Linked DNA regions of Homo sapiens: region 2 is linked to region 1. Evidence: fine-mapped expression QTL. A gene starts in region 1. The other region holds a variant in brackets. All regions are shown on one strand. Distances are from middle to middle. Region 1 holds the start of PIM3 (Pim-3 proto-oncogene, serine/threonine kinase). Region 2 has its middle 19 kb from the start of CRELD2.

Region 1 (4,369 bases):
GCAGGTGGTCCCCTAGCTCCCAGTCAGGTGCAGCTCCTCACAAGCTCTCGCTGCTGGACGTGGTGCTGGCCACGTCATCAGGGTCGAGGGTGCACAGCCGCAGGTCACAGCTCTCCGGGACGCCCCCGTCAGCCCCCAGCATCCAGGGATGGGCCGCAATCTGATCCAGCGACGGCCGCTCTGAGGGCCGCAGGGACAGGCACCACCGGATCAGCTGCTGGCACTCTGTGCGGAGCGGAGAGGTCAGGGAGGGCCCAAGCAGGGCGAGGCCCCCACCCCCGCCTCGAGCCACCACGCACCTGGAGAGACCCTCCTCCGGAAGAGCAGGCGGCCTCGGAGGATCTCCTCGTCCTGCTCGAAGGGGATGTCCCCACACACCATATCGTAGAGAAGCACGCCCAGCGACCACACGGTGGCCGAGCGCCCGTGGTAGCGGTGGTAGCGGATCCACTCCGGGGGGCTGTACACTCGGGTGCCTAAGGGGACACAGGGCTTAGCACGCCCACCACAGAGGCAGAGCCGCTCAACAGACGGCGAGGTCCCTGCTGGTTAACTCCCTGGCCTCAGTAACAGGAAGCAGAGCCAGGCCTCAAAATCCTGCTCGTCATCACCCTGGAAAAACCCCGGCAGGCGATGGGGGGGCTGGGGGAGGGGCCGGCCGTCCCCCTCCGCCGGCCGCGGGGGAGGAGCAGGTCACATGAGTAAGAGCTCGGCTTTCACAACAAACAGATGCGCTGTGAGGCTACCTGGGTGGGGGGGGGACAGCGCGGGTCCCTTACCGCCCGGCGCGCCTGCCTGCGGGAACGGGGGGAGGGGAGAGAGGGAGGGAGGAGGGAGGGGCGGGCGGGGAGCCCCGGCTTCCCCAAGCTCCGCAATGCGGGGATTTCTGCCGCCGCGCCCCCGCGCTCCGCACGCACGCAGCTCCCGCCCCCACGCAGGGGAGGCCCCGCCACTCCAACCGCGCCGCGGGGGCCTCCAGGCTCCCGGCGCAGACCCAGCCCGGCTGCGCCCTGCGTCACGCACGGAGACTCCTCCGCTACCGCCCCCAGCCGGGGGTCTCTCGGGCCGGAAGGATGTCACGCGCCTCCCACACCGGGGCAAGAGGCCCCGTACCCCCCAACGCGATGGAGGAAGCAATATTGAGCGCGCCCCTAGCCCCCACCCAGCACGATCCCGCTCTTGATCCCTCGCTCAGCCCTCCCCAGGGTAGCGCGTGGGCCTCTGCTCCCCACGAGAGCAGACCCAGGGCGCGCGGCCGCCCAACAGTCATCAGCCCCTCCATGTGCCGCCCCTGCAGGCGTTAACCCGCCGGCAAGGCCCCCGGAACGTTCCCTGCCCCGCGCCCGCGCTCACCGTCGAAGTCGGTGTAGACCGTGTCCTTGAGCAGCGCACCCGAACCGAAGTCGATGAGCTTGAGCTCTCCGGAGCGCAGGTCCACAAGCAGATTTTCGTCCTTAATGTCGCGGTGCACGACCCCGCAGCTGTGGCAGTGGCGCACGGCGGCCAGCACCTGCGCGAAGAAGCGGCGCGCCAGCGGCTCGTCCAGGGCGCCGCGCTCCGTGATAAAGTCGAAGAGGTCCTGCGCCGGCTCGGGCCGCTCCAGCACCAGCAGGAAGCCGTCGGGCCGCTCGAACCAGTCCAGCAGGCGGATGACGCCGCGCGCGCCGCCCGCCGCGCCCACCTTGCGCAGCAGCACCACCTCCAGGGGCACGGTCGCGCCGCCCTGGGGGACACGGCGGTCAGCAAAAGCCCCGCGCCCGCCCCCCGCCGCCGCCGCCGCCCGTGCCCCAACTTACCAGGCTGCCCCACTCGGTCACCCGCTCCTTCACCACGTGCTTCACAGCCACCTGCGGAGACGCGGGGGTCAGGCCGGGCCAAGCGAGGCGCAAGGCGCGCGAGAAACCCGGGCCCGCCCGGCGGTCCGACTCACCGGGAGCCCGTCGGCGATGCGGCTACCCGCGTAGACCGTGCCGAAGCCGCCGCTACCCAGCACGGCGCCCACCTGGTACGCCTTCTCGAAGCTCTCCTTGTCCGCCTTGGCTGCAGGGAGGCGCGGGCGGGGTTGGTGCGGCCCGGGGCGCCCCCGGTCCCCGCCCTGGCCCCGGCCCCGGCCCCGCCGGCCCCGCGCGTACCTGGCTGCAGGATCTTCACCGGGAGGTGGTCCACGCCGCCGGGCCCGCAGAGGTGCGCCAGGGAGCCGAACTTGGAGAGCAGCATCGCGGGCGACGGCCTCCCCGGAGCCCCGAGCCCCAGGCGCCGAAGCCGCGGCCGATCCGGGCGAGCGGCGCGCCGGGGACACCGGCCGTCCGAGCCCGAGGCGGTCCGCGCGGCGCAGTGGGCCCGGAAGGCCCGCGGGGACCGCGTAGACGCGCAGCAGGCGGAGCGCCTCACCCGCCCCGGCCGCCTCGCCCGGGGGTTTTGGGCCGCGGCGCCGCGTATCCCTCCGCGGGGGCGGGGCGAATCGGGACCCCGCCCCCTTCCGCCCGGGGCCCGCGAGGCGGCGGCGGCCGGGCGCTAGCTGGGGAGACGGCGGGGCAGCTTGGCGCCTGTCTTCGGGCGGGCGAGGGCCGGGTGCGGCGGGCGCGGGGCCGCTCCGGGACTCGTTTTCGTAGCGCAGCCGCGGAGGCGCACGGCGTGTCGCGTCGGTCCGCTCTCCGCGCTCACGCTCTCACTCCGCGCAGGCGCAGTGCCCGCGCGGGTGGCGGCCGTGGCGCCTCGGGCAGAACGAGGAGGGACTGCACGAGCCAATGGAAGCCGGAGTTTTTAAAGAAATCCGGCGCCCCAGCCAATGGCGGGGCGAGCCGTTTCCTGGCTCCGCCCCCAGCAGTGCCTAGGAAGGTCACCCGCCGGCCCCGAGCAGGGTTCCTGGGGGTGTGGGAGTGCGGGAGGCGACCTGCGCTTGTCCCGCGGCCTCGAGGTGACACACGCCGCCAGTCTGCGTCCCCGGCTGTCTGCGCATCCCGTCGCGCACGTGGCCGGGCGCGCGGGGAGGTAGCGCCGGCTCCTCTGGAAGCCCTCGCAGCGGCAGCGCCCCCAGCCTCGCAGCCCCGGCGGGGGCCGAGAGCGCACCTGGCTGGAGATGCTTCCTCCTCACCCTGGGCTCTGACCTCACGCCCGCAGCCCGAGGGCCCTCCCTGGTACCTCTGCCCTGCTGGCCGGTGCCTGGAGTGGCCCCGCCCGACTCCTGCCGTCTGACACGGTCCTGGCTGCCCTCCGGGCTCTCCAGCAGCTGCTGTCCACCTCCACCAGGGAGCCCACCTTGATTGCTGCGACAGCCGCACTCAAAGGCTGAACAGCCGGGGTACACATTGCCCTGGTCTGGACTTCACCCTGTCGTGCCCCTTCCCTGCTCTCTGTACAGAAGTCTGACTCACCTGTGTGGTTTGGTGCAAACCCACAGATTGCCAACATTGGTCCAAAGTCACCGGCCTGAGAGCAGCTCAGGGTTCCAGGACGTGAGTGGCCACCCGCCAGCCCCAGGGCTAGTGGGTTGAGAGTTGGGGGCCAGAGGGCCCAGGGGCTGGTCCTCTTGGCACTGCCAGGCGTTCTCAGTGGCCCTCAGGGGTCTAAATATTGTGGCAGACATCCCCGGGCGGTCTGGTGTGACCGTCAGCGCGCACACACACTTGCCTCGGAGCTTCCAGCCTCCCCTAAGTCTGACCTCTCATCTCTATACAGTCACCATCGCTGTCCCTGCGCTGACCACTCACACACCACTCCCCTGTTCAGCTCTTCTGAGGCTGTGGCTCTCGGGACTGGCCCAGGCCCACCTGCCATCTGGGCGCCCTCTGGGGCTCGCTTCGTCGCCCGCTGCCTGGGCCCATGCCTGTGCTCCTGGGGGCTCCTCTCTTGCCTAGCTCATCTCTTCCTGTCCCTTGGGTCCTGAGGATCAAAGCCAACGCGACATTGTTTGTCCCCAGGCCCCTCCCCCTCCAGCCGCTGCTTCCCAGAGCTCTGTCCAGTTCTCTCCCGCAGTACGAGGGCAGGGTTGGGGCTGGTGGGTTAGCCTTCCCCCACCCACCACGCACCCAGCACAGGGCTCCCCCGAGATCAGATCCCTGGTAGGATGACACCCCAAGCCTTCCCCTCCAGCAGTATCCACACAGCACCTGCGAAGGAGGAGGGGCTGCTGCCCATGTGGGTCCTCCCGGGGACCTACCTGAGGGTCCAGTGGGGCTGCCCTCTTCTGTGCTGGACACGCAGCAGAGGTGGGCAGAGATGCTGGAGAGCACGGTAGGTCTAGGGGGTGACCACTACAGTTGAGTTCATGTCAGTCTGGAGGGGCGAGGGTCCTCAGCCTGACATGTCAGGCTAGTCTTCCTTGAGTCTGACATGTCAGGCTCCAGGCCAGTCTTCCCTGAGTCATCCT
Region 2 (4,369 bases), 24 kb after region 1:
CCCAAGTAGCTGGGATTACAGGCACCCGCCACTATGCCTGGCTAATTTTTGTATTTTTAGTAGAGACGTTTCACCATGTTGGCCAGGCTGGTCTGGAACTCCTGACCTCAGGTGATCCGCCCGCCTTGGCCTCCCAAAGTGCTGTGATTACAGCTGTGAGCCACCTCGCCCGGGCCTGCTTTTTGTTAGAAGGGAGGTTCTGCTGAGGACTCTTTTGCCCTCATTATCTACCTAAATAATTTCTTTCTATCTCCTGTATCACCACCACAGTGGGAGGAAGCTGCCGACTTGGGATGTGGAGGTGGGGGCAGAGGGTCCTCCAGCTGGCCCTAAACAGAGTCCTGCCCCAGGCCTGCCTGCTCCTGGCACCTCCTGGCCCTGCCCAGGACTGAGGTCACAGGCACTGTGCCAGCCCCCTCTGACCGGTGAGAGCCCAAACAGGGCACACAGGAACCCACACAGAATCACAGAAGCCCCCCACAGGGGCTGGGAGCAGTCCCCTGGGCACTGTCGGCCAGTGCAGCCCCGCCGGGGGGTGCAGCTGCTGGTGTCCTGGGGTGGTCTCCGTGCTCATGACGGTGCCTGCATCCGTGCTGGGGGGTGCTGGTGTGTGCACGTGTGTGCTGTGTGTGCACAGGTGAGTGTCCGCTGAGTGTGCACGTGTGTGCTGTGTGTGCACAGGTCAGAGTGTCCGTGGTGTGTGCACGTGTGTGCTGTGTGTGCACAGGTGAGTGTCCGCTGAGTGTACACACGTCTGGTGTTCATGCACGAGTGAGCCCATGCTGTCCCGGGTCAGTGACAGGCGAGCATCGCGTGGGCCATGGACTGTAAGTGGGTTTGGGTAGTAAGGACACAGTGACCCCTAACCCCAAAACCATCCCTGGCTCTTGGGTGGGGAGGGGAGAGTCTGGCACAGCTTCCCTTTGGCTGTTCCCGCCTCCCCGGTTCCTGGCCCGTGGCCCCTGCCCCATCCGCCTTCTCCATGTCTGGCACTGCCCTTCCCTATGTGGGGCACGGGTCCTCACTCCTTGGGTCTCAGCTCCCAGGCAGCCCTCCCAGGCCCTGCGAGGACCCTGTGGGTGTTTGTCCCTGTGTGACTGAGGCACCACATAGAGCAGGATGTGCTAAGGCTGTACGCCTGGGCCCCACGGTCAGACGGATAGACAGAAACGTGGATGGACCGACGGGCAGCTGGTGGCCAGCGCAGGCTGCCGAGAATTGGCGGAAGTGGGGCGGGTGGCCGGCGGGCGGCCTGGCAGATCCTGGAAATCCTCGCTTCCTGTTTTCCCAACAAAGGGCCTCTGTCCCCCCAGGAAGGCCACTGGCTGGCGGCAGTGGACGGACATTCCTTTTCCGTAAACAGGATTGTTTTCCTTTTCTCCTCTGGACACAATAACAGCAGCCCCCATGCCCCCCATCCTGTCTCCTGTCACCACTAGCCATGGGGCGTGGACAGTGTGGACGGGTAGGGGGTCCACAGAGCAGGCTTTCCTGGACCAGGTGCCCATTCTGTCACCCTGGGAGTGGGAGTCACAGTGGGGGCCATAGCCTAGTTGACGGCAATGAGGCCTCCAGGGCAAGGAGTGGGAATTCAGTGACGTCTGCCCCACAGGGCAGGTGGGAGGCTGGACCAGCCTTGGGCTAAGGAGACCCTGTGAGCCTCATGGCCCGAGGCAGCAGTGCTTGGGGCAGAGGCCAGGCTTAGGTCTCTGCAGGGGCTGGGCCTCCCTCCAGGTGGACCTCCCCCCGCCCCAGGCTGGCTTTGGGTGAATGCATCTGACTTCCAGAAGCCCCAGAGCAAGACCCTAGAGTAGCTAGAAGCCCCAAGGGGACCCTGGGCGTGGCGGGAGGGGGCAAGGGAAAAGCCTCCAGAGGGTTCAGGGCCCTCCCCTGCCACAGGAGACCC[A/G]GTGAGGGCTGCAGGGACAGCCTGGATCTGTGCAGTGCAGATGGCGTGGAGGGGCAGAAGTGGCACGGTTCCCGCGTGCACAGCTCTGAGTGAGCGCAAGTGTGGCTGCTGTGCACACCCAGGCAGCGGGTGCCTGAATGGGCCTGTGTGAGGGGCTGGGACTATTTATAGCCGCTCCTAGCCCAGAGGAGCTATTAATAGCCAGGGTTGAGGGGGACGGACAATGTCTCCTGCTGGCCGCTGCCTGCGGGTGGGGTGGGGGTGGGTGCCATTCTGTGCCCGGAGACACCCGGGGCTGGTACCCCAGCCCCCACCCAGGCTTCGGCACAAGGGCCACTGTTATCTGGTCAGCAGCTGAGCCAGGGGTCTGCATTCACCTGGGACAGCAGGCTGGGGGTGCACCAGGCTACAGCCCCCACCCTGCTCTCCCCGGAGGCCGTTCTGCAGCCACACTGACCCTGAGGAGGATGGGATGGTGGGCACGTGAGCTGGCAGCAGCAGGGCACCCCGGATGGAAAGGGATGCTGAGACCAGGACCCCCATATCTGGTTCTCAGATTCCAGCATGGGGAAGGGGTAAGGAAGTGCTGTGGGGACCGCAGAGCCAGAAGTGGATTTGAGAGAGGCCGGCCCTGCAGGCCCCCCAACCTGCCTCTGGCAGTATAACCAGGTGTCCCTGAAGTAAACAGGTGAACTGAGGCCAAGTCAGATGGGCCTTGGAGCCACTGGAGGGGTGTGGATGGAGGGCTGTGGGTGGAGGAGAAGGGCCCTGCCAGAATTCAGGCTGGTGGGGGCAACAGGCAGCCTCATAGCCCGCTGTCCTGGCTGAGGCTCATTCCCTGTGATCATTTTTGAGAAAAAAAAAAAAAAAAAAAGGGGGGAGGGCGCCTAGCTTGTAAAAAGACCAGATCCCGACCCCACGAAGGGTGAAGTGTGACCTGGGTGGGGCGGGGGGCACCCCTCCAAGCCTTGGCTGCACCCGGCTCCCTGTGCCACACGCGTCCCCAGCATCAAGAGGCGCACCCCCCACCTCTCCCTAAGCCCAGCCAGGCTGCAGAGAAAACAGGAAAGCTCGGAGGCCCAGCCAGGCGCCCTGTGGGCGGGCCTGGGGGAGCTGGGGACGCAGGTTCTGGCTTCCACCCCGGGGGGGCGGGGGGTGTGCGGCGGCGGCGGTGGCGCTCGTGCATCTCATTCTGCGCCTGCTCCCGCGGGGGCTCCTTTCCTTCGGGGAGCCCCCGCCCCCGGGGCCGTGACTAAGCGGAGTCACCTGCCGCCAAGGGCTTTCCAAGAAGGTCAAGGCCAACCGCGCTCCGGCCCACGCCCCAGAGCTCGGGCCGGGCCCTCACAGCCATCGTCCTGCTCATCGTCATTGCTCCCGCAGGGGGTTCCCAGCGACGAGGAGCGCGGGGCCGGGGCGGCGGGGGAGGAGCGCGGGCGGGTCCCTATGGGGCTGGGCACGGGCTGCAGGTCCCCTCCCATGCTCAGCCCAGGCCCCACACCCTCCACCCCTGCTCCTCCCGGACCTCCACCCTCCCCTCCGTCCCTGCTCCTCCCGGACCCCCACCCTCCCCTCCGTCCCTGCTCCTCCCGGACCCCCACCCTCCCCTCCGCCCCCACCCCTGCTCACCCCAGGCCCCACACCCCGCACCCCTCCTTCTCCCAGACCCCCAGGCTCCCCTCCGCCCCTACCCCTGCTCCTCCTGGACCCCCCACACCCTCCCCTCCGCCCCAACCCCTGCTCATCCTGAACCCCCCACCCTCCCCTTTGCCCCACCCCTGCTCCTCCCACATCCCCACCCTCCCCTCCGCCTCCACTCCTGCTCCTCCCGGACCCCCACCCTCCCCTCCGTCCCCGCCCCTGCTCCTCCCGGACCCCCATCCTCCCCTCCGCCCCCACCCTGCTCCTCCCCGCGCCCCCACTCCCCGCCCCCACCCTCCGTCCCCAACACCTGCTCCTTCCCAGACCCTCATCCCCCTGCCCCAGTCTCGCTCTTCAGCGCACCCCCGGCACCTCCATTGCGTCCCCTCCCCCCACCTCCTCGTAGCGCCCCCATCTGCTCCCCGCCCCCGCCCGCCGGGGAAAGCCCAGCTGACGCTTCCGGCACCGCCCCCTTCCCGGCAGGGCCGCTCCCCGCCCTTCCCGCCCGCGGGAGCAACACCGCCCCCCGCGCCCCACCCCGCGCCCCGCCGCCCGCCCGGGTCCCCCAAGCCCGCTCTGCGCAGGGCGGGGTCCTTCCTCTGCAAAGGGCGGACCGAAGACCCGGGCGCCGGGCAGAGGCTGGAGGGGGGCCCGGGTGGGGTGAATCCCCAGTGGGTGCCCGCTCCCCACCCCCACCGCGACCACCAGCCCCCGCTCCGAGCAGGGACTCCGAGGCTTGCGGGTGACCCTCGAGTGGTGGCCGCCCTGTGGCCCAGAGAGCCCCGTCGCAGGCAGGTGGGTGAGCGCAGAAAGACGCTGGCCCTG

What was found.
Region 2: its variant is fine-mapped to the expression of PIM3 in whole blood (INTERVAL, PIP 0.95).

What each region holds. Positions count from the first base shown.
Region 1 is chr22:49,958,796-49,963,164 of GRCh38, reverse strand. It overlaps PIM3 (Pim-3 proto-oncogene, serine/threonine kinase), which reads right to left and starts at 2,393. Exons shown (of 6, transcript NM_001001852.4): 1 at 2,133-2,393; 2 at 1,931-2,040; 3 at 1,797-1,847; 4 at 1,354-1,723; 5 at 300-476; 6 at 1-225. The coding sequence starts at 2,217. The coding sequence ends at 38. It overlaps MIR6821 (microRNA 6821), which reads right to left and starts at 299; the gene lies at 226-299. RefSeq lists silencers at 531-1,050, 1,181-1,230, 1,871-1,920, 2,061-2,210, 2,261-2,900 and 2 more.
Region 2 is chr22:49,935,054-49,939,422 of GRCh38, reverse strand. No RefSeq gene overlaps it. Among named protein-coding and RNA genes, the nearest start is that of CRELD2, 19 kb to the right of the region's middle. RefSeq lists silencers at 2,932-3,471, 3,248-3,542, 4,031-4,369 and an enhancer at 2,681-3,520. The variant A/G (reference allele first, on the strand shown) is at 1,907.